Regions from separate parts of the Homo sapiens genome. Here all the other regions are linked to region 2. Evidence: fine-mapped expression QTL. A gene starts in region 2. Each other region holds a variant in brackets. All regions are shown on one strand. Distances are from middle to middle. Region 1 overlaps ZNF804B (zinc finger protein 804B). Region 2 holds the start of ADAM22 (ADAM metallopeptidase domain 22). Region 3 overlaps DBF4 (DBF4-CDC7 kinase regulatory subunit). Region 4 overlaps SLC25A40 (solute carrier family 25 member 40). Region 5 overlaps RUNDC3B (RUN domain containing 3B).

The links. PIP is the estimated chance that this variant, and not a neighbour inherited with it, causes the effect.
Region 1: its variant is the best candidate, but not a certain one, in a credible set for the expression of ADAM22 in tibial nerve (GTEx, PIP 0.77).
Region 3: its variant is the best candidate, but not a certain one, in a credible set for the expression of ADAM22 in whole blood (INTERVAL, PIP 0.66).
Region 4: its variant is the best candidate, but not a certain one, in a credible set for the expression of ADAM22 in whole blood (INTERVAL, PIP 0.52).
Region 5: its variant is the best candidate, but not a certain one, in a credible set for the expression of ADAM22 in whole blood (INTERVAL, PIP 0.78).

What each region holds. Positions count from the first base shown.
Region 1 is chr7:88,855,153-88,860,261 of GRCh38, reverse strand. The region is part of intron 1 of ZNF804B (zinc finger protein 804B); the gene reads right to left. Among named protein-coding and RNA genes, the nearest start is that of TEX47, 62 kb to the right of the region's middle. The variant T/C (reference allele first, on the strand shown) is at 2,385.
Region 2 is chr7:87,931,382-87,936,490 of GRCh38, reverse strand. ADAM22 (ADAM metallopeptidase domain 22) reads right to left here and starts at 2,240. Exons shown (of 32, transcript NM_001324418.2): 1 at 1,941-2,240; 2 at 1,305-1,465. The coding sequence starts at 2,025. RefSeq lists enhancers at 978-1,057, 1,068-1,117, 666-1,243, 1,244-1,821 and a silencer at 1,928-2,337.
Region 3 is chr7:87,908,036-87,913,144 of GRCh38, reverse strand. It overlaps DBF4 (DBF4-CDC7 kinase regulatory subunit), which reads right to left. Exons shown (of 12, transcript NM_006716.4): 12 at 3,592-5,109. The coding sequence ends at 4,982. Among named protein-coding and RNA genes, the nearest start is that of ADAM22, 24 kb to the left of the region's middle. The variant T/ATATAT (reference allele first, on the strand shown) is at 2,339.
Region 4 is chr7:87,855,891-87,860,999 of GRCh38, reverse strand. SLC25A40 (solute carrier family 25 member 40) reads left to right here. Exons shown (of 12, transcript NM_018843.4): 2 at 360-428; 3 at 2,249-2,369; 4 at 4,649-4,708. The coding sequence starts at 2,273. Among named protein-coding and RNA genes, the nearest start is that of SLC25A40, 18 kb to the left of the region's middle. The variant G/T (reference allele first, on the strand shown) is at 2,636.
Region 5 is chr7:87,785,036-87,790,144 of GRCh38, reverse strand. The region is part of intron 8 of RUNDC3B (RUN domain containing 3B); the gene reads right to left. Among named protein-coding and RNA genes, the nearest start is that of SLC25A40, 89 kb to the left of the region's middle. The variant G/A (reference allele first, on the strand shown) is at 2,621.

The DNA.
Region 1 (5,109 bases), 920 kb before region 2:
CCCATTTTTTATTTCTTCAAAGAAAAAGGTTTTGAATATACTATTGCCCTCTACAATATTTTATATTGTAATACTCTGAGCAAGAGCATTTTCTTTTTCTATCAGCTCAAATCTGGTATGTTTTGATTTTCCAAATATAACAAAGCAGAGTTCTTAATTATATCTGAAGTCAGTGTAACCAGATTTTAAAAGAAAACAGACGCAAGAGAACATTATATTTTTGAAAGTTTAGGTATAAAACATCAAATATTAACCTTACTTTTTCTATAATTTAAAAATATTTATAAAATATTGATTTTTCTCAATAGAGAAATTTACACAGCTCCATAACTTTATTCTTTTTGAAGTACATAAGGAAATTTATATTTTTTAAATGAAGGTAATAAATTTCAGGAATTATCCTTTTGACTAAAAGCACATTTTTAAGTTGTTTCTGAATACTCAGATATCTATTATATAATATTAGCTTAAACAATAGATATTAGTTTATATCTAAATAACACTATATTTCCATATGCATGCACATGGACATAGAGTCAAATGTTTCCTTGAGGAAACATTTAGCTGCACATAATTGCTATGGAAAGCATTTCTGTCCTAATGGGCCTGATTATTTATAAATTATCTTATTAATTGTTAGATTTAAGTTGTCAGATCAAAACTAGAAAACATTATGTCTGTAAATTATGGTGCTAAGTTGTTATTCAAACTAATGAAAGAGAGAATTAAAGAGAATAGTATATTCTTATTCCCCAAATAAAATTTTGCTGAATCATGATTCACATAACTCACATAAATCATGACCCACATAAAAGTAGATTGAATTATTATTTTTAAATGTCTTATAAAATTACCATTTAGAGAAAAGCTTGTGCCCTTTTATTAAACTGGCTTATATCAGTTTTTGTAAAACAGATGAAAAAATGGCCTAATCCAATTTTTCTGCTAAACTCATTAGTTGTATCTGATGAGTTGTCATTAAGTCATAAGTTTTTAGATAAATATAGACAAAACACTACACCTAAATATTACCCATACAGAAACAGCACACACACACAAACACACACATGCACGCACACCCATAGCTCCTAAAGTAAGCAAAAATTCCTCATTCTTATTCATTTGATTGGTGAAGAGCGTTGCCTGAAAATAAACCCAATAAAACCTATATGCTCATTAGACAGAGGTCCAATGATAAGTAAAATATATACTTAAATATCAATATTAATATTTAATGCGTTCATAATGGTGTTCATTTATATATCCATTCCTAAACATTCAGGGAATGTTCATAAGCCTCCTCATTAATAATCTTCCATCTCAAGCTGTTTTATTTCCTAAAATTACTGTTGAAAATATGCCTACCTTATAGCTATAGAACCAGAAAAACAAAAAGTCAGAAAATATTGGCATCAAGTTCACAGTTGTTGCCGCTGTGTTTTCTCAAATACATAATGCTAACAGTTATTTTCAAAATCATTATTCTGGAAAATAACTATGTTTATCCACGCTAAAATGTCTCCAAAAGTCTTTCAAATGATATTATTATTATCTCAATATTACTATAAATATAATTCATTATGGCCTTTCTGTTAACGAGATTTTTTAATCATGTCTGTACTTGGCCTCAAAGTACCCCAGTATGTTCATTCTGCTCTACCACTTCAGGGATCCTACAGCAGCACATCATCTGGCAGTGTTTAGTAACTGCTTTTCTATTTTCACCAACTATAAAATATTCATCAAATTCTATTGCATGCCCCATTCTCTCTGTCCCTCTCTGATAATCACCAACTGTATAAAAAGTAATGGCTTTAATTTTAAACAAAGAATCATCACCCCATCTCTAACTACCCTTTGACTTCAAGTAATATTCATGCTTATTTTCATATTTTTGTTGCTAAAGTTACTTTCTATCCTTCCAATAAGTGATAAAATTTATCAAATTTAACTAATTGCTACAAGAGGCTTTATGTTGGTGAAAGTACCTTGAAGAAAGGAAACTAGGAAAGTAATACCCAGCAAGAAAAACTCAGAGGTTAGCCTAATTTGAGGAGAAGTATTTAGACTTTTTTGCTATTTATGAATTAGTGACATTAGAGGTCAAGAGAGATAGATAATTATAGGTAAAGAAATGCAGGCCAGGTGCCGTGGCTCTCACCTGTAATCCCAGCACTTTGGGAGGCTGAGGTGGGCAGATCACCTGAGGTCAGGAGTTGGAGACCAGCATAGCCAACATGGCAAAACCCTGTCTCTACTAAAACTACAAAAATTAGCTGGGCATGATGGCACAAGCCTGTAATCCCAACTATTCAGGAGGCTGACGCATGAAATCGCTTGATCCTGGGAGGTGGAGGTTGCAGTGAGCCGAGATTGTGTGCCAC[T/C]GCCCTCCAGTCTGGGCAGCAGTGACAAAAAAAAAAAAAAAAAAAAAAAAAAAAAGAAAAGAAAGGAAAGGAGAAAGAAAGGGAAGAAAGAATTTGGTATCAGGATTATGCTGGCCTCATAAAATGAAGGAGGATTCCCTCTTTTTCTATTGATTGGAATACTTTCAGCAGTTATGGTACCAGCTCCTCCTTGTACCTCTGGTAGAATGAGGCTGTGAATCCATCTGGTCCTGGACTTTTTTTGGTTGGTAAGCTATTAATTATTGCCTCAATTTCAGAGCCTGTTATTGGTCTATTCACAGATTCAATGTCTTCCTGGTTTACTCTTGGGAGGGTGTAGGTGTCCAGGAATTTATCCATTTCTTCTAGATTTTCTAGTTTTTTTGTGTAGAGTTGTTGATAGTATTCTCTGATGGTAGTTTGTATTTCTGTGGGATCGGTGGTGATATCCCCTTTATCATTTTTTATTGCATCTATTTGATTCTTCTCTCTTTTCTTCTTTATTAGTCTTCCTAGTGGTCTATCAATTTCGTTGAGCTTTTCAAAAAACCAGCTCCTGGATTCATTGATTTTTTGGAGGGTTTTTTTGTGTCTCTATTTCTGTCAGTTCTGCTCTGATCTTAGTTATTTCTTGCCTTCTGCTAGCTTTTGAATGTGTTTGCTCTTGCTTCTCTAGTTCTTTTAATTGTGATGTTAGGGTGTCAATTTTAGATCTTTCCTGCTTTCTCTTGTGGGCATTTAGTGCCATAAATTTCCCTCCACGCACTGCTTTGAATGTGTCCCAGAGATTCTGGTATGTTGTGTCTTTGTTCTCGTTGGTTTCAAAATCCCTGATGAACATGGATGCAAAAATCCTCAATAAAATACTGGCGAACCGAATCCAGCAGCACATCAAAAAGCTTATCCACCATGATCAAGTGGGCTTCATCCCTGGGATGCAAGGCTGGTTCAACATACACAAATCAATAAACGTAATCCAGCATATAAACAGAACCAACGACAAAAAACATACGATTATCTCAATAGATGCAGAAAAGGCCTTTGACAAAATTCAACAGCCCTTCATACTAAAAACTCTCAATAAACTAGGTATTGATGGGACGTATCTCAAAATAATAAGAGCTATCTATGACAAACCCACAGCCAATATCATACTGAATGGGCAAAAACTGGAAGCATTCCCTTTGAAAACTGGCACAAGACAGGGATGCTCTCTCTCACCACTCCTATTCAACATAGTGTTGGAAGTTCTAGCCAGGGCAATTAGGCAGGAGAAGAAAACAAAGGGTATTCAATTAGGAAAAGAGGAAGTCAAATTGTCCCTGTTTGCAGACGACATGATTGTGTATCTAGAAAACCCCATTGTCTCAGCCCAAAATCTCCTTAAGCTGATAGGCAACTTCAGCAAAGTCTCAGGATACAAAATCAATGTGCAAAAATCACAAGCATTCTTATACACCAACAACAGACAAACAGAGAGCCAAATCATGAGTGAACTCCCATTCACAGTTGCTTCAAAGAGAATAAAATACCTATGAATACAACTTACAAGGGATGTGAAGGACCTCTTCAAGGAGAACTACAAACCACTGCTCAAGGAAATAAAAGAGGATACAAACAAATGGAAGAACATTCCATGCTCGTGGGTAGGAAGAATCAATATCGTGAAAATGGCCATGCTGCCCAAGGTAATTTACAGATTCATTGCCATCCCCCATCAAGCTACCAATGACTTTCTTCACAGAATTGGAAAAAACTACTTTAAAGTTCATATGGAATGAAAAAAGAGCCCGCATCGCCAAGTCAATCCTAAGCCAAAAGAACAAAGCTGGAGGCATCATGCTACCTGATTTCAAACTATACTACAAGGCTACAGTAACCAAAACAGCATGGTACTGGTACCAAAACAGAGATATAGATCAATGGAACAGAATAGAGCCCTCAGAAATAATGCCACATATCTACAACTATCTGATCTTTGACAAACCTGACAAAAACAAGCAATGGGGAAAGGATTCCCTATTTAATAAATGGTGCTGGGAAAACTGGCTAGCCATATGCAGAAAGCTGAAACTGGATCCCTTCCTTGCACCTTATACAAAAATTAATTCAAGATGGATTAAAGACTTAAATGTTAGACCTAAAACCATACAAACCCTAGAAGAAAACCTAGGCAATACCATTCAGGACATAGGCATGGGCAAGGACTTCATGTCCAAAACACCAAAAGCAATGGCAACAAAAGCCAAAATTGACAAATGCGATCTAATTAAACTAAAGAACTTCTGCACAGCAAAAGAAACTACCATCAGAGTGAACAGGCAACCTACAGAATGGGAGAAAATTTTTGCAATCTACTCATCTGACAAAGGGCTAATATCCAGAATCTACGATGAACTCAAACAAATTTACAAGAAAAAAACAAACAACCCCATCAACAAGTGGGCAAAGGATATGAACAGACACTTCTCAAAAGAAGACATTTATGCAGCCAACAGACACATGAAAAAATGCTCATCATCACTGGCCATCAGAGAAATGCAAATCAAAACCACAATGAGATACCATCTCACACCAGTTAGAATGGCGATCATTAAAAAGTCAGGAAACAACAGGTGCTGGAGAGGATGTGGAGAAATAGGAACACTTTTACAATGTTGGTGAGACTGTAAACTAGTTCAACCATTGTGGAAGTCAGTGTGGTGATTTCTCAGGGATCTAGAAC
Region 2 (5,109 bases):
AGGTTGCAAATGGTGTGAAAATATCCTTCCACAGAAATAATCTTAATTAATTGAAAAATACGATGACATAGGGAAACTATGGCCCCTGCTTCTTCAGTTTTACCATTGAAACGAGTCAAAATGGAAAAGGAAAATAGGCATTTACCAACCATTAATTCACATAAAAGAATCCATCATTAAAAGCTTAACATATTGGGATTTTCTACTAAAATAATCTTTGATGGATATTATGTAGCCCTTTAAGCTAATTTCCCACCTTCTATTAACAAAATGTTAACAGTACCAACTACTTGGCTACAAATACAGATTTAAGTAATATTTTCTATTTTTACATATTTCACACATACAGATAAGTTAGTATAATTATCACATCATCAAGATATATCTTAAAGCACTGATGAATATATTTATACATGTGAAAAGGTTTGGCTTGCCATTGCTTCAGTAAAGTTTACAAAAATTTTCAAGTACATGAACAAGTCCTATCTTAATATGGACTTACAGGTGGGTGAACTGCCTGATCAGCTGATGTGTAGAAATAAAAAAATACACAGCCCCAGAAGTATTTACTTAAATTTGTCAATAAATTCACAGTAATTTTCAGGCATATCTGTGAATGTGTGATCTTGATTTAAATACAGATACAGTGATAAAAACTAGATTTTTAAAAACATAATTTATAAATGCTCAACAAACAGCACAGCCCTAATTAAACCAAGAGAACTGCTACCAATAAAGAAAGTCGGAGGAGGACACCTTTTCTAGAAGGTAGGGGTGAATGGGCATATCTCTGGTGTCCACAAATGTGTGCGAATAGAACCTTAAAGTTCAGCTTGTTTTTACAGTTGGGTTTCTTAAGAACGTCTAGCCTTGTTTTTTTCCAATTTTTTCTTACAGTGTCAACCTTGGGTTAAATCACTTATGAAGTCTCTTTGAGGAGTAAAACAACAACAATGATGATTCAAACCCTGCCCAAATACTACCTCCCTTCTCGCTGTGCATGCCTGGCTTTTGCTTGACAGATGTCAGAGGGCTCTCCGCCTGTTCTCTCAGCTCACCGCACTGCTGAAGGCACCCCGCACAAACTCCCCTCGGGCAAAGCCCTCGGCCTGTGGTTATTTTGGTTCTTTTTTGTACCCTTTTCCCCTTCTTTTTTGCACAGGGAGCGCCATGCATGACTCGCATCGGGACCCAACTCATTTCACCCAAGAAGACATGGGATCTCCAGGGCAACCGAGCGCAATCGTGGGGTCTCGGGTGGGCCGGGAGGCGCGGAGGACCACCTCCCGGACCGAGCCTCTCACCTGCGGGCCACCGAGGTCGCCCCGCACCCGCGTGTCGAGCGCGTCGTGCCGACTTTCGTCTTCGCCGCCCGAGCGGTAGATGAGGCGCAGTGGCACGATGCTCTGGCGCTCCACGAAGCGGTTTTCCTTCCTCTTCTCTAGCTCCATCAATGAGGCGTCTCCTCCAGGCAGGAACCGGGAAAGGAGGGAGTGGAGAGAAAAGGCGAAAATAATGACCCTGACCCTCACTCCTCCATCCTGCAGTCCTACGTCTCCCCTACGAAAATCCCCACCGCCCCCTCCCTCTCGGAACCCAACTGGGAAGGACGCAGAGACACCAGCCCGAGAGCCTTGGACCAGCTCATCCGAGAGCAACCAGGAGCGGGGCCCAGAAGCAGGGCACCCCTTTCCCATTCTCCCCATTCCTCTTCAGAAGGAGAAAAACAGGCTTTGACCGAAGGCTTCCAGTGCATCTGCGCGCCTCCACACATATATTTTTGCTCCACTTCTCACCACCCTCCCGAATTAAAAAAAAAAAAAAAAAAAATCTCCCCGCGCACTCGGGAAATGGGGATGCCCCCTTTTCAATACGCCTGAGGGCTCCAAAGATTCCCGGGAAATGGTATGGCCCAAAGGCACAGAGGACGGCTAACTTACCTGCCTGGCCGCAGCGCGCCGGAGGGCAGGTCCCCAGGACACAGAGCAGCAAGAAGGGCACGGACACAGCCACTGCCGCCTGCATGGTGCTGCCGTCAGCCCGCCTCGCCCGAGACGCTCAGCTCCTCATGCCGGCGCCGCCGAGTCCGTTTCCCTCGCTCCGCGCCCCCGGGGTCCCCGCGGCCACCTCCACCCAGCCCCGGCCGGTGCTGCGGCGGCCGTGGCGCTGCAACCTCCACCGCGGCTCAGTGCTGCATTGTGCTTCGCGGACGCTTCCGCTGGCGGGGGGAGCGAGCGAGTGCTGCATTGGGCGGTTGGCTGTAGCTAAGTGGTTTCTAGCGCCTCCCACCTCATCCCCTGGCAAAGGCTCGGGCGGGCGACAAGAGCTCGGCAGGGAGCGAGCGCCCGGTGCACTCGCCCCCCGCGCGCAGGCAAGGGCGCGCGCAGGAGAGTCAGCTGGGAAATGTAGTTCTCTCTCCGTGTCCCGCTTGTCTCCACGACGGCACGGACCGTCGCGACCTCGTGACTGTGAGGTCCTCTATATCCCACAGACTGGAAGGGCGGGAGGGAAGGGCAAAAGAAAGAGATCAGCACTGGACCGCCTCCTGGCATCCGAGATGCACCAACTGGGCCGTTACAGCAGCCAGTATTCATCTGCATCGTCCTTAAAGAGCTGTTCTGTTTACCACAGATTAGTAGTTACTTAAGTTATCCGGAGAACCATACCCTCACGAATACAGTGCTAGTGAATTATTCAACAAATACAGATTGAGGATATACTATGTACCCAGCGGTTGACAACCGGAAGGACACGGGGATCAGAGGCACCTGTTCTTGGGTAAAGTTGAGCAGACAGACCACTTTTTTTTACAATACAGTGTGAAAAGTGTCATGGTTATACCTAGAGGACCATTAATTCAGTCCAGGGAGTCAAAGAGGACCTCCCAGGGAAGGTCTCTGCAGGTAATAGAGGGATGATTTAGCTTAACTCTACGGGATATTTTTGTTCTTTATTGCCAGACAGCCTCAAAACTCTACCAGATATGGGGAACTCAGTTTTCTCAGGCTGCTTATTCCATTTTCCTCTGATTCAAAATGATAGAAATTCTTGAGTATAAAACAATAATAAAATAGTTATCTACATAAAGTAATACTTGTATTTTTTAGTTTTTCAAAGTTCACATGTATTATCTGATCCTTTGGTCAAGAATTTGATTATAACTATTACTCTGATTTTATATTTATGTATGTACGTATGTATGTATGTATGTATTTTTGAGATAGGGTCTTGCTCTGTCGCCCCAACTGGAGTGCAAGTGGTGAGAACACGGCTCACTGCAGCTCAAGCTCCTGGGCTCAAGCCATCCTCCTGCCTCAGCCTCCCAAATAGCTGGGACCACAGACATGTGACACCACACCTGGCTATTTTTTGTTATTATTATTACTTTTTGTAGAGACAAGAGTCTCCCCATGATGATCAGGATGCTCTTGAACTCTTGGGCTCCACCTTGGCCTCACAAAGTGCTGGGATTGCAGATGTGAGCCACTGCACATGCCTACTCCCATTTTAGAAAGGAAAAAAATTAAGATTTAGAGGTGTGCCTTTCAAATACTGTAGCCAGTAGTTACTTGAGGCTATTTTTTTTTTCCGAGTGTTTATTATTTATTTTTGTATTTCAATCGCTTTTGGGGAACAGGTTGTGTTTGTTTACATGAATAAGTTCTTTAGTGGTGATTTCTGAGATTTTGGTGTACCCATCACCCGAGCAGTGTACACTGTACCCAATGTGTAGTCTGTTATCCCTCACCATCCCCCACCCTTTCCCCTGAGTCCCCAAGTCCAATGTATCATTCTTATGCCTTTGTGTCCTCATAGCTTAGCTCCCACATATGAGTGAGAACATGCAAAGTTTGGTTTTTCATTCTTGAGTTACTTTACTTAGAATAATAGTCCCCATTTCCATCCAGGCTGCTGCGAATGCCATTATTTTGTTCCTTTTTATGCCTGAATAGTATTCCATGGTATATATATGCCACATTTTCTTTATCCACTCGTTGATTGATGGGCCTTTTGACTGGTGCCATATTTTTGCTATTGTAAATTGTGCTGCTATAAACATGTATGTGCAAGTTTCTTTTTTGTATAATGACTTATTTTCCTCTGGGTAGATACCTAGTAGTGGGATTGCTGGATCAAATAGTAGATCTCCTTTTAGTTCTTTAAGGAATCTCCATATTGTTTTCCATAGTGGTTATACTAGTTTACATTCCCACAAACAGTGTAAAAGTGTTCCCTTTTCATTGCATCCATGCCAACATCTATTTTTTTTTATTATGGCCATCCTTGCAGGAGTAAGGTGGTATCGCATTGTGGTTTTGATTTGCATTTCCCTGATAATTAGTGATGTTGAGCATTTTTCCATATGTTTGTTGGCCATTTGTATATCTTCTTTTGAGAATTGTCTATTCATGTCCTTAGCCCGCTTTTTTAATGGGATTGTTTGTTGTTGTTTTTTTCTTGCTGATTGTTTGAGTTCTTTGTAGATTCTGGATATTAGTCCTTTGTCAGATGCATAGTTTACGAAAATTTTCTCCCACTCTGTGGGTTGTCTGTTTACTCTGCTGATTATTTCTTTTGCTGTGCTGAAGCTTTTTCATTTAATTAGGTCCCATCTATTTATCTTTCTTTTGTTGCATTTGCTTTTGGGTTCTTGCTCATGGAGTCTTTGCCTAAGCCAATGTCTGGAAGGGTTTTTCTGAGTTATCTTCCAGAATCTTTATGGTTTCAGGTCTTAGATTTCAGTCTTGATCCATCTTGAGTTGATTTTTGTGTAAGATGAAAAATGAAGATTCAGTTTCATTCTTCTGTATGTGGGTTGCCAATTATTCCAGCACCATTCGTTGAATAGGATGTGCTTTCCCCACTTTGTGTTTTTGTTTGCTTTACGGAAGATCAGTTGGCTGTATTTTGCTTTCTTTCTGGGTTTTCTATTCTGTTCCATTGGACTATGTGCCTGTTTTTATACCAGTACCATGCTACTTTGGTGACTATGGCCTTATAGTATAGTTGGGAGTCAGATAATGTGATGCCTCCAGATTTGTTCTTTTTGCTTCGTCTTGCTTTGGCTATGTGGGTTTTGGTTCCATATGAATTTTAAGATTGTTTTTT
Region 3 (5,109 bases), 23 kb after region 2:
AACTTTCTTGTCCTTTGTTATAATTTGAACAATCTAGACCATCTGGATGCCATGGAGATTATCACATTAACCCTTTATATTGATGATATATTTATCAAATCAGATGAGGAAGAAGTTGCTAGTACACTGGAAACTTTGATAAGACACATGTTCTCCATAGGGTGAGAAATTCAGGAACCTGTTATATCAGTAACATTTTCAGAGTTCCACTGGTCAGGGACATGCTGGGAAATCCTATCCAAAGTAAAAGACAAATTATTGCCTACTGAACCTTCCAAACATGAAGGAAGCATAATGTCTGCTAGGCCTCTTCAGGTTCTGAAGGCAGTCAGTTCCAACTGGGAATACTGCTTCAACCCAGTGGCAGGAAAGGCTTCCAACTGTGAGTGGAGCTTCCAAGCAGAAAAGTGCTCTGCAGCCATATGATCAGGCAGGTTCAAAGGTTCTGGATTTAGCGGTAGGAAAAGATGCTGTGAGGAATTTATGGCAACTTCCCTGCCCACAGTAAAGGAATCACAGCCCAGAAATAAGGGATTTTAGAGTAAGGCCAGTCCCTCTTTAATGGAGAGTCACACACTTTTTGAAAAGCAAAAATACTTTGTTGTATGAGATGATGATGTATGAGATGGAACACCTGACCATGAGGCGAAACCCACCATGTGGTCAACACTACCCATCATGAACTGGGGTTTTATAAGACCTACCAAGTCATAGCACCAGGCAGATGCAGCAACAATCCATTGTAAAATAGAATTGGTTTATTTAGGATTGAGCAAGAGCAGGACCAGAGAGCTCAAGGAAGTTGCATAAACAGGCGGCTGAGATCCCCATGTCATTCATTGTTGTATTAATGCCTCTCCCTCAGGTCACACCTACAGATGTATGGGTCATCCCTTAAGACCAGCTGAAAAACGAGGAAAGCCCAAATTTAGTTAATGGATGGGTTGCTTCCGTGGCTACAAGATGAAAATAGATGGCAACTGCCATATGGCTACTCAGTGGTGGCATTGAAAGCCAGTCACAAGGGAAAAATCTTGCCAATGGGCAGAATTTCAAGTGGGGTACCTGGTCATTGCTTTTGTGTGAAAAGAGAAGTAGGCTGAGCTTAGCATATATGTACAGTCTTGGGGAGTGAGAAATAATTTGCACTGGCTACTAAGGGGCCTGGAAAGAGAAAGATTGGAAGACTCAGTAGAAAGTATAGAGGCATGTGGCATATGGGAGTGGGCATGAAGTGTGGGCTCCTCATACTGCATGTTAATACTACCCTGATGCTGGCACAATGGGCATATGAGTAAAGCGGTCATGGTGGGCAGTAATGGAAGTTATTTCTGGGCTCCATAGCATAGGTTCCTATTCGCCAAAGCCGAGCTAGTGTTTTTGTCACTGCCAGATGCCCAAACTGCCAGAAACTAGGCATGAAGTGGCTAGTCGATTATACTGGACACAGTAATAGACATGCCAGGTCTTTTTGTTGTTGTTGTCGTTCACATTGCATTTTTAAGACTTAGAGTTTCACTGGCGTGGCATCATATATAACTTCGTATCAGACCAGGGGATGTCCTTTACAGCAAAGGAGGCATGGGGGTAGGCCCATGATCATGCAATCCACAAGCCTTATTATATATTGAATCAACCAGAAGCTTCCTGATAGAGTATTGGAAGGGCCTGTTAATTAGCATCAGCATGGAGGTGATATTCTTGAGAATAGGCTGTCATTTAAGATGCAGTATACAGTTGGAGTTCAAGATGTTTTTATGGTGCTATGCCCCCGACAAAATAAGTCTGGCAACCCATGAGTGGAACAGGAGTAGACCTGCTTGCCGTCACTTATTTGACCCTCTTGAATGTGTTTCCTACCTCAGCGACTCCTGTTGAATTATAAGCTGCGACCACCACCCGGCCGTTTTGAGTTCCTTGTGCCAATAACCCAACAGGCAGAATCACTATGTGGGGTAATTGATCCTGATCCCTCTTCAGTAACTTGTTGCCCCAGCTTCTGGGAGTACTGACAGTAAACAGCTTTCAACTTCTACTGTCAGCTCCTTCAGGGATTGTGTCAGCTGAGGAGCCTCGTTGCCCACAGTCATGCTCCTTCCTAGAGTGACCCATACTCAAATGACTTATTGGTCATCTTCACCTAGCAACTCTTGAAAAGCTGCCTGTGGGGTCAACTGGTGTCCAAAGGCACCCCTTAGAAAACATCTGCATACCAAATTCCATCTCAGTCTGCCTCCTGTGGGAACCCAAAAGTCATACCATGAGGGCCTCGTGGTATGACTTTTTATAGACTTTTGTCTATATATGTATAGACAAATATATATATTATACATATATA[T/ATATAT]TATATAGACATATATATATATGTATATGTATGTGTATATATATTTTTGTAAAAACGAAGTTTAGCTATGCTGCCCAGGCTGACCTTGAACTCCTGATCACAAGTGATCCTCCTATCTCAGCTTCCCAAAGTACTGGGATTACAGGTATGAGCCAGTGCCCAGCTAAGCCCAGGAGTCTGAGGCCACAGTGAGCTGACTGCACCATGGTAACCAGGCCTGGACAAGAGAGACCTAGTATCAAAACAACAACAACAAAAACAATAAAAAAAAAAAAAAAGAAAAAAAAAGAAAAACCACACACACAACAAACAAAAACAAAAAGGCAAAGAACCTTCTGGGTAAACACTACCTTGGCTGTGCCTTGGTAAAAAATAGGAAAAACTACCCCTACCTCTAGGTAGATGCACCTCATTGCCAGGACACACTACTTGCTGCAAATAACCTGCCTTCATCTCACTGGCTGGGTGCCCATCTGCATAGCTGCACAGCACAATCCAAACTGTATGTGGTGGCCCAAGTAAACTGAAATTATTCCAAGTAAACTGAAATTTAAGCACTTGAAAAAAGCTGAATACTCATTATGAAGACCATGTGGTGTTCCAAAAGTCCAATATCCAGTGTCAAATAGTTTAACAACTTTTACTGAAGGGTTCAGACTTTTTCTCCTTAGTAAGTATAACTTAATGTAAAATGATGCCCAGAGTACCACTGTAAATTGAAGACACTTTTTTTTTTTTTTTTTTTGAGACGGAGTCTCGCTCTGTCACCAGGCTGGAGTGCAATGGCACAATCTCGGCTCGCTGCAATTTCTGCCTCCGGGGTTCAAGCGATTCTCCTGCCTCAGCCTCCCAAGTAGCTGGGATTACAGGAGCGCACCACCATGCCCAGCGAATTTTTTGTAGTTTAGTAGAGACAGGGTTTCATCATGTTGGCCAGGATGGTCTCGATCTCCTGACCTCGTGATCCGCCCGCCTTGGCCTCTCAAAGTGCTGGGATTACAGGCGTGAGCCACCGCGCCCAGCCAGACACTGTTACTCTTAAAGTCAAAGGATCATACAGTGACTTTACATACCTTTCAGTTATTTGGAAAATTTGGGGAACACTGATAACTAAAGGGAAATAAACCTGCAAATAATTTTCCAAGTTCCATTTAGATTTTTCAAAGGTTGTCTACGAAACCTTACGTATGTTTACACATACATACATGTATTTGTGATAGAAAATGGAACAATAATTTACAATGGAAACAGGGTTTGCGTGTATGCACTGTAAAGACTCTTTTATTGAGCCTACTTCAGGTACTGGTATGAAAAACAAAGGTGTTAAAAAGCCAGTGTTCATTGATGTTATCCAAATGATCAAAATAATGTATGCAGGAAAAGCATATGAATTAGTCCTGTACTGAGAATCATATATTTCAAAAAAATTAAGATTAGTAACCTAATTTTTAGTGACAATAGATTCATGTACTATGCAATAGAACCAATTGAATGTCACTGGTGGTAGTCTTACTCCTACAAGAACATACTCAAAGGCAAATGCCTTATATCCACAGATTCAAATTGAAATTTCTTATATTTGAATTTTCTCTTCTCCAAATGCTTGTATCAGTAAGTGCCAGATCAAGGCAATCCTTGTATATATCCCAAAACTGTATCTATAATTCAATGCCATCCTTTTCTCCTTCATCTCCTACCAAATTAGGGGGTAGAGTCAACTTTTTTTTTTTTGAGATGGAGTCTCACTCTGTCACCCAGTCTGGAATACAGTGGCACAATCTTGGCTCACTGCAACCTGCACTTCCCAGGTTCAAGCAATTCTCAGCCTCTGGAGGGAGTAGCTGGGACTACAGGCGCATGCCGCCATGCCCAGCTAATTTTTTGTATTTTTAGTAGACAAGGTTTCACCATGTTGGCCAGGATGGTCTTGATCTTCTGACCTCGTGATCAGCCTGCCTCGGCCTCCCAAAGTGCTGGGATCCTGTGGCATGAGCCACAGGAGAGTCAACTTTTGAATATTATTAAAGTTATTTACAAGGTAAGTAATTAAAAATAGCAGATAAATTATATTCCACTTGGTAGCCTGGTTAAGTCCTTCCTTCATGGCTTCCAGTTACCCCTATACATAATCTAATTACTCAGCACCAAAATACTAGCATGGTCCACCAGTGACCCTCAAGTGTCAATATTTCTGATGATTTCCAGAATTCAAGCATAGAAATGTATTTTTCCTTTCTGTATGAAATTTAGGTTTTTCAAGGCAAGGTCATGTTATCCTGATAATCTTTTAAAATTTACAATACAACTAGAATATCCAAATGTATAATGCTAAGTTTGATATTCCCCAAATTGCACTTCACTGGTGGTTTTCAGTGACAAAGCAAATTATTATTCATTGTAATTCTCAGGAAACAATTACGAACATATATATAATGTAAAACAAGACCAGTCACAAGTTTATTCTGTAATTTTTCTTTAACAGGTATTCAATTCTGTAGAAAATTGCAAATATTTATTTTTAATATTTACATTTGGGTCTGTAAACAAAGCTGGTAAAAAAATCCTAAGAATTTCCATACATATTTATAAAAATTTCAAGAATATGATCCTTATCACTTCTGAAAAGTATGCATTTTTTAAATTCTAAAAGCCAGTAAATGTAGAAGTTGAAGGGGACGAGAAAAACGCTGTTAACAGATTATCTGAATTTTCCTCTTCCCAAATATCTAAAACATTGCATATACCACTCTTTTCTGTGTAGCTTGTGAAAC
Region 4 (5,109 bases), 75 kb after region 2:
AAAAAAAACAACCGTCATAGATGATGCTGGCCCTTTAATTTTGTGTTACAAAATCTGGTTGTTCTACTGTAAATGATGCTAAGATTAATCACTGTGTTTGGGCTCTAGAGTCGTTTGCTTATTTGTTTTTAAAGCAGAGTATATTAACTAGAATAACATGAGGTTTTTGTGAAAATGCTTCTATAACTAATGCTTGCATTTATGGAGTGCTCTTTATATTCTTCAAAGCAATTAGTAGAAAGCATTTAATGAGTATTTGTTGATTTTTGTATTAAAGTTTTTATGTACTCTTTTCTTTTAGATTTATTATCCTTTTCCTGTGTGAAAAGATAAGACAATTACTTTCTTCTTAATTACAGGTTTTTGGCTACTGATGTTACAAACAATAAAATATTGGAGCATAGAGTTGAAGAACAGACTCAAACCAGGTAGGTAGATAATAAAAGTCTAAAGAATCAATAAAATTACTATTTATTTTGATAAAGGACATTATTGATATTATTGACAGAATTGGAATATGAACTGTAGAGTACGGTTCAAAATTAAGTTTCCTGAATTTGATAATTGTATTGTGATTATATAAGATAATATTCTGATGTATTTATGGTGAAGGGACATGATGTATGCAGCCTACTTTTGAATGGTTCAGAAAAAAAATTATATGTAATTTGACAGAGAATTTGATAAGTCATGGATAAGTAGGAACTCTCATATTGCCAGTAGAAGTATAGATTGATCCAAGCTTTCTGGAAAGCATCATGGCAATTTGTATGACGTTTTTTTTGTTGTTGTTGTTTTGATTTTGACATGTAGTCTTCTCTGTCACCTAGGCTGGAGTGCAGTAATGCGATCTTGGCTCATTGCAACTTCTGCCTCCTGGGTTAAAGGGATTCTCATGCCTCAGTCCCCCACGGAACTGGGACTACAGGTTTGCGCCACCATGCCCTGCTAATTTTTTGTATTTTTAGTAGAGACTGGATTTCACCATGTTGGCCAGGCTGGTCTCAAACTCCTGACCTCAGGTAATCCACCTGCCTTGGCCTCCCAAAGTGCTAGGATTACAGGTGTGAGCCACCACACCTGGCCCTGTATCAAGTTTTAAAATAGCTTATCCCATCAATCTTACTATCTTTCCTACAGTAATTGTAGGAAGGTTACAAAAATATATATATGTATGTATAAGAATGTTATAGCAGAATATTTTATAGTTTGGAAATTGGCAACAACCTGATATCTAACAATCTGAAACTGATTAAATAAATATAATTAACTACCGTGCAAGCAATAAAAATGTAAATCTGTTTTTATTGACACAATGTCTATAATGTGTTTTTAAGTGTTAAAGCAGCCTACTAAACAAGCAAAATAGTATTGACCTGTTTTTCAGAAAAGCTGTATGTACACGGACACATAAGTGTACGTGTGTTTGATTAATATACAATATTTGGTTAGATGTAATGTGTGTGTATAGACATATACATATGTATGTGTGTATGTTCATAGACATTTGGAAAGATGACATTCCTGTTGCTGGTGATTATTATTATTATTTTTTTTTGAGACAGAGTCTTGCTCTGTTGCCCAGGCTGGAGTGCAGTGGTGCGATCTCGGCTCACTGCAAGCTCCGCCTCCTGGGTTCACGCCATTCTCCTGCCTCAGCCTCCCGAGTAGCTGGGACTACAGACACCTGGCTAATTTTTTGTATTTTTAGTTGAGACAGGATTTCACCATGTTAGCCAGGTTGGTCTCGATCTCCCGACCTCATGATGCGCCCGCCTCGGCCTCCAAAAGTGCTGGGGTTACAGGTGTGAGCCACCACGCCTGGCCGGTGATTATTTTTGAATAGTAAGTTCATAAGTTATTTTTATACTGTTCTGTATTATCTGACTTTTTAAAACTTTTTATGTTTTTATGTTGCTTTTCTCATCAAATTTTTGTAAGATAAAACTTATTAAGGTTATGTGTTTTTATTTTACATCTGTACAACAACTACTGGTATACAATAAAGGGCTGTATTTGCTGATACCTCTGTACTCTATTGGGGAGGTTTTTTTAGTAGTGTGTATGAGGCTGAGTTCACAGACTCAGACTTAGTGGTCACCTGCTTTCATTCTGTCAGTATCTGTTTGGTTAATTCTCTCTTAGTTGTCTTACTAATGTGATGCTGCTCACCCAGCTTAGCTGAAGGATGTTATCATTTTTGAAAGATCAGAGGATGTGCTCTAATTTTATGTTTTCTTTTTAACAGGTTTTTATTTAATTAGTTAAAAATATGGATCCTGAGACAAGGGGACAAGAGATTATCAAAGTGACACCTCTTCAACAAATGCTTGCCTCATGTACTGGAGCTATACTGACATCAGTAATAGGTAAAATTATGTTACTGATGTAGATTATGTAACTTTGAATGAGTCAGTGCTTCCATTTGAGTTTTAGTATCAGTATTTCAACGTAGTTTCTTTCTATTTTCCATAAGTATTGGCTGGCTGAGAAATAAAGAGTACAAAGAGAGGAATTTTACAGCTGGGCCTCCGGGGGTGACATCACATATTGGTAGGACCGTGATTGCCCACCTGAGCTGCAAAACTAGCAAGTTTTATTAAGGATTTCAAAAGGGGAGGGGGTGTAAGAACAG[G/T]GAGTAAGGTCACAAGATCACATGCTTCAAAGGGTAAAAAGGAGAACAAAAATCACATGCTTCTGAGGAAACAGGACAAGGGCAAAATCACAGACTCCTGATAAGGGTCCAGCAAAGATCACAAGGCAAAGGGCAAAAGCAGAATTACTGATAAGGGTCTATGTTCAGCAGTGCACGTTTTGTCTTGATAAACATCTTAAACAACAGAAAAGAGGGTTTGAGAGCAGAGATCCAGTCTGACCTCAAATTTACCAGGGTGGAGTTGCCCAATCCTAGTAAGCCTGAGGGTACTGCAGGAGACCAGGGCGTATTTCAGTCTTTATCTCAACGGCATAAGACAGACACTCCCAGAGTGGCCATGTATAGACCTCCCACCAGGAATGCATTCCTTCCCCAGGGTATGAATTATTAATATTCCTTGCTAGGAAAATAATTTAGCAATATCTTCCCTACTTGCATGTCCGTTTATAGGCTATCTGCAAGAAGAAAAATATGGCTCTATTTTGCCCGACCCTGCGGGCAGTCAGACCTTATGGTTGTCTTCCCTTGTTCCCTAAAATCGCTGTTATTCTGTTCTTTTTCAAGGTGCACTTATTTCATATTGTTCAAACATACATGTTTTACAATCAATTTGTACAGTTATCACAATTATCATAGTGGCCCTGATGTGATGTACATCCTTAGCTTATAAAAATAACAGGATTAAGAGATTAAAGTAAGACAGGGGTAAGAAATTATGAAAGTATTATTTGGGAACTGGTAAATGTCCATGAAATCTTCAGAATTTATGTTCCTTTGCTGCGGCTCCACCTGGTCCCTCCATTCAGGATCCCTGACTTCCTGCAACACATACTATCATTTATGATCCATGAATGTTTCATCATATTATTATATGAAAACAACCCTGGACAGAGATTCAAGAGACTTGAGTCCTTGCTTTGCCATTCTCACGGTGAATACACTTGGGAACAGTATCTAACTTTTATTTGAACTTCATTATTTCATCTGTAAATTAGGGGCTTATAACTGGGATTTCTTTTGGGTCCCTATCAACATTAAACTTTTCTGATTCCCCATGTCTATAATAGAAAGCAAGAAGATGGAATAAAATATTAGCATAATGAATAATACAGAATTTTCACAATTTATGTTCGTAACAATTACAAATAATCTTTACTTTGCATTAACGGAATTTCTTAAATTTCTCTGGTTCACAGTTTTCTGTTTCTTACAGTCAGCTTCTTGTAGATGTAGCCAAATGACACAGTTAGGTGATAGTTTAGCATTTTAATGATTTTTAAGTTGGCTAGTTTATGTAAATAACAAATGATTAGAACAAATAAATTAATTGCTTATGATGTATTTTCAGGTCAGAATTTGAGTTATAAAGGTCATAGAGATCATCTAATATAATTATCATCATTCTCAAGATGAGGAAAAGTTTTCTTAGAAACATTATTTGGCATTTGTTTCTACTTGGATAAAATATAGCATGCATATTAAAACTATTTTCCTTTGCTGTGCTATGCCCAAATGGAATAACATAACTTAGTGCTAAAGATGTTTTATGACTAGTTTACTCAAATTTTTATTATCTGTACCTCTTATTTGATACAGGTAAATTTAACAGATTGGGAAGACTAATATCATTTGGCTATTGATTACTTATAGAAAGTTATTCTCAAAGTCTTTTGGAACTTTTACTTCTTATATTAGAAATCATATTTTCTTATAAATACTGACTTTAATGCTAATGTAATGATAGTTGTAGGAATATTACAAATAACAGTTTAGTACTCATGAGAGAAGTAATTCGTCTGTCTTTCACTGATTAACAAAATTTAAGGGCAAAAAAATTAGAATGTTACATTCAAGACTACTTTAAGATAAATAAGCTTACCAATTATATAGCCATGAGGAAAAGTATGAATCAATGTATTTTGTGTTCTGTGTAAAACATCTATCCAATTTACAGATACCACTCGCTAATTGAAACTTAACATATCTTCATAGTGACACCCCTGGATGTTGTTAAAATTAGACTCCAAGCCCAAAACAACCCACTCCCCAAAGGTATGTGTACTAATTGCCCTAAAAATGTTATGTTTGATTTTTAAATGTTCCTGTGGTTTTTTTTTTTGCCTAACATTCATTTGCTAATTTATTAAAATTGATGCCTCTTTATCCTCATGAAAAACTTTTTTTTTCACCATTTAGTTGTACGTGATGAGGTGTAGGCAAAAAGCAAATAAATACATAATATTTATATGGACCTACTAATTAAAGCAAAGGATGGTTATGTATTTGTATTTGTGCCTCAGAGGTAAGAACAGAATTATATTTGTGAGGGACCTTAGAATCCAGCTTACTCCTGTGTCCAAAAGTTGTGCCCATGTTAGAGCATTCATGACCATCATACAACTATTGCTTGAATATAGTGATTGGAAATTTATTATTTTATCAGACAGCTTGGT
Region 5 (5,109 bases), 150 kb after region 2:
GTAAGCCCTCCTATGGCCACCATCACTGGGACTGCACTAGGTCATACCTGAAGCTAGGACAGCACTGGGTCTCACCCAAGCACTGCTGCAACCACTACCAGACTACCACCTATGTTCACTCAAGGCCCTAGGGTTCCAGGATCAGCAGATAGTGAAGCCAGCCAGGCTTGTGTCCTTCCCTTCAGGGCAGTGAGTTGCCCAGGCCCTGGGTGGGTCCAGAGATGCTGTCTAGGGGCCAAGGGTGGCAGTCAAAAACTTTAATAATTTACTTTATGTTCTGTTATACTGAGGGTAAGCTGGCACTCAAACCACAATACAAAGTCGTTCTTGCTCTTTCTTCAGGCAGAGGAAATACTATCAATATCAAATTACTACTCTTTCCTGTTGTAATATCTAATTTCCGATTAATACCCAAGGAAGTGCAATAGAACATGGTTTATCCTTCTGGGGCTTGGCATTTTTCTCTTCTGGATACATTTTCTTGATTTTTCATCCATATATGGGCAGTAGATTATATAATACATATTAACATGATTTTAATTTTAAATTTTAATTAGAATTATTACCTGCCAAAATGTATACATGACCAGATGAGTAGAAACTGTCATAATCTGTCCGTTATAATGTCATCATTGCACTCTTGTTAGGATTCATACCACTCATCTTAAACTTGTGCATCAGAATGGCATAGTATCACTGACTTATGGTTTGTAGGCTGATAGATCATGCCATCAGTACTCACTACGAACTACACTAAATTGGCTTTTCAACTGTAACAATGGCCTAGTTTTAACAATGAATTATTCTTTACTTATATTTCACTATGAGTGACACTTCAGTTTCTTTACTAGGAAACCATATAGGACAGGTTACTGTTGCCATAATCTTTCAAACCATAAAGAGAAAAAACATTCATCAGCTAACTAGGAAAACAAAATAGAAAACAATTATTGGTGTTAAATATGACAAATGTGTTCAAGCTTTGCAAGCTGTTCCGTGGCTATTTATTCCTGAGGTTGGAATGCATGTTTTACAAAGAATCATTTGTACAATAGATCATCTATCTGACAGTCTGTACCTCTAGATGTTGACAAAACCCCTCTCTTATATATGGCACCCTTCAAGTAACAATGTGATTGATGTTAAATCTAACTACTTCAGGAGATTTTGAATCCCATGTAAAAAGAGAACATGCCTTATTATTGTCGATATTCTCAACTACTTGGGCAATCTCAGGTACAAAGTATACATTTAAATATATGTTTACTGAAAAATACTAAATTCAAAACTGAAGTTTTTCCACCAATTAGCATAAATAATTATGACAATAAGTTTTGAAAAGGCACATGTATACATATGTAACTAACCTGCACAATGTGCACATGTACCCTACTAAAACCTAAAGTATAATAAAAAAAGAAAAGAAAAAAAAAAAAAAAAAGTTTTGAAAAGGCCATAAACAAATACATTTTTTAATCTTTTAACAAACTTTCCATATACTGATCCAAAGTACAATTGGTACTTTAAGCTTGTTTATATTTCTTTTATTGAATAAAATTTAATATATAAATAAGAGTTAAAACAGTTACTGGAGCCAACTAAAGTCAAGCTGTACACAGATTTCCATAAAACCATAAGAACCAAAACCTAGAATAATCCTGTGTCTCCCAATGAAATTATACTATTATTACTAATCATAATAGTAGAAGATTGAAATGATTCAATACTTAAATATTCTAACCACCAAAATCTTTTTCTCTTTGTTTTGGACACAGTGTCTCACTCTGTTTCCCAGACTGGAATGCACTTATGCCATCATAGTTCCTCCCAAAAAACTAGGACTACAGGCACACAGCACCACACCCAACTAATTTTTCGTATTTTGTAGAGATGGGGGTCTTGCTGTGTTTTCCAGGCTGGTCTTGAACTGCAGGCCTCAAGTGATTCTCTCGCCTTGGCCTCTCAAAGCTCTGGGATTACTGGCATGAGCCACTGTGCTTGGCCCACCATAATCTTAATCATTCAAATATACCTTTGTCAATGCCTTTTAAAATACTTTAAATTAGTATTGCATCAAACATATGACTGACAAAAAGAATTACAGTTACAAGTGATACCTGTTAAGCAAACACATATGTCTTACAGGCATGGTACATACAAATACTATTATTTAAAAGATTAATCCCATTGCCGTTTGGAAATCAGAACTCAAAAGTGAGTTTCTTGGAACTTGGGGATAATATGATAGAGTCAAAACTCATTGTTTGATCCGTAGCATTTTGACAAAAGATTTTAATTTTCTACTTATCTCCCTGAGTGAATTTATAAAGGAGATTTTAAGGTTCCCATATATAAAAGCAGAGGAATAAACCTTTGAATGCCTTCTTTTTTATATACTTAACACCATTAATACTCATAATGGTTCACAAAGTGAGTATGTTATCTCTGTTATATAGATGAAGAAACATTAAGACCTCACAACTGGAAAGTGTAGAGCACAGTCCTGATTTTCAAGACAGCTTTAGAATGCTCCTGTAATACTCCACACTAACTTGTACTCTGTTGCCCAAACTACAAAATGTATATATTTTATGAGTATTCAACGACATAATCAAAAAGC[G/A]TTTTAATAGTAATTCAAAATACATCTAATCATCAAGAAATACATAAAACTAAGTGACTCAGGATTTAAATTGCCCAGGAAAAAAAATCAACACAATGTAGAAGCAAATATTACATGCCTCATATTCTACCTATCAGTATTCCTTCTCTGGCCTTTTCCTTTACAATTTTAATTTTCTGAGGGCTACTTTTATCTTCTCAGGAGTAACAAAGGAAATTTCAATGCCCAACTTTGATTATAGGCCTTCTTGACAGTTGATTTTTTAAAAATCTCAGCAAGATAAGGATAAAACATATTCACTCTTTCACTATAGCTGCAAAAATATCCACACTGTTCTGCATTTCTTAAAGCTGATTCTGATAAAGTAGTGAATTGTGAACATTCACAAAGAAATGTATCTTATGCTCCTGTTCAGTATCCTTGAAAGTGGTTTTTGTATGAAAGAATCTTAGAAGACACCAATTTATGCCTTATGCCTATCTAAAAATTGAAGCCATACTATATGAAAGTAAATCTTTAACCTCTCAACTCAAGAAAATAGTCTAATTCTGATCAGTGGCCATAATTATTTTGTTGCTCCAGTAATATTTAATTAAAATTAAAGGTATTAAATTAAGGTTATTAAAGACAACTGAAAGCTTCCTTTGCAAAAATCAAGAGGATCAATGGCACTCCTACATCCAGAAATACGACAGAATCATAACTCAGGTAGATTAATTTCTCAAACTTGAAAGTTTGAAAGTCTTTGTTTCCTTTCAATTATCCAAAGTAAGATAAATGTGATCCATTTAAATTTAATTCTTAAAATGAAAACATCTCTTTTGAAAAAATAAAGTGATTTCATAATTATTTTATGTTAAAAGCATTTAAACTACCAGTATTGTTTGTAAAAGAAAAATGAAATTATCTTCTTAATATTTTAATTGTAAAATTATAATTTTATATAACCAGAAATCTGGTTTTTAATAACCAGAAATCTCTACTGTTTGGCTCTTGATATTTTTCTCCCTGCTAATGGAAGCAAGGGGTTAAGAAAGGTGTTAATCTCTTCCCTACCCAGTGATGCCTCATAGGACAAACTCTCTTTAAAATACCATTAAAAAAAAAGAAGAAAAAATATGTAAACATAATTCTTTTCATCAAAATACAAATTCCTAAAAAATATTAAAATTTTTTGTTCCTTAATAAAACTTTCTAACTTTAAAAATCATCTTTTATGATGATTTTTAGTCTATGATACTTAGTCTCAAAGTATCTCATTACAAAATAACACTGGAAGGAGGAAGTGGAGCTGGGCTGCTACTGGGACAGTGTCTGCAGAGTCCAATTCTAGGAACGTTTTTAGGAGGCAGGGGACAAGATGGCCAATTAGATATAGCCAGGAAACACATCTCCCTTCAAGAGAAACCAAAATATCAAGTAAACCATCACATTTCAAACAGATTGTTTGAGAGAAAACACTGAAAGTTGAGAGAGAGGTGATGCAGACACCAAGGTTGAAAAGGAAGTTGGAAAGCCTGCATAGAATCTCTTAGCACAAGGACCAGCTCTCGGTCCTGAACAGAGCCAAAGCAAGGGGGGAGTGAAGGAACTACAGAACACCACACCTCGGGGATCCTAACTATAAAAGATCCCACAACCCACACAGACATTTGAGTTGGCAAAGGAATTGCCCACAGAGTATGCAGAGGCAGAGCTCAAACCTGTGCAGAGCTCAGAAGGGTTCATGGAACATGAGACAGCTACAGCAAAAGGCAACCATAGGTTCCCATCCCCTAAGTCTCTCCATCTTGCTCTGAGTGACTGGAGCCCCTACTGACTGCAGAGCCAGGAGAAAGTAGTGCTCCCTTTCTCATGGGATTGGGCAAGGCTGATCCACATGCCCCCTTGTCTTCCAGCTCCTCTCAAAGCCACCTGCCTCGCCATTCCTGTAAGAGGGTGCACAGAGCACAGCCTGCACTGCCCCGCCTGAGTGTTTTGCCAGTGACCTGGGAGCAGTTTAGCTTCCCCAGCACAGCTGGTGTTCAACCCTATGGGGCCAGAGGACAAAGCTGCAGGCCCAGTCCCAACCTCCCAGGGTTGGAGTACACTGTCCAGGGTTCCAGAACTGGGATCTGTGGTTACAGCTCTAGTGAGGAGGGAGCCCCCACTCAGAACACAAACAGGGAGGCGTGAGTTCATGTGCTGCCAAGGGAGCTGGGCATCCTTCCTTCCACAAGACCAGCCTGGGAAGGGTTCAGTCTGTTGACCAGTCGTACCTTCTGCTTGAGGGAGCCCCATGGCCTGGAACACTTGGGACAGCCCCGCAATTTCAGCACAGAAAGCTTGGAACAAATCTAGCTGGTTAGGTCTGTTCCTGGGGCAGACACTGGAGGGAGATCTGTTTGGGGGATCCCACAGCCATTTGCCAGGCTAAAAACCCTGGGCTGCAGGCACCACACGAGCTATAAATCCGTGGCACCAACACACTGCCTGGGGATCCTATGCCC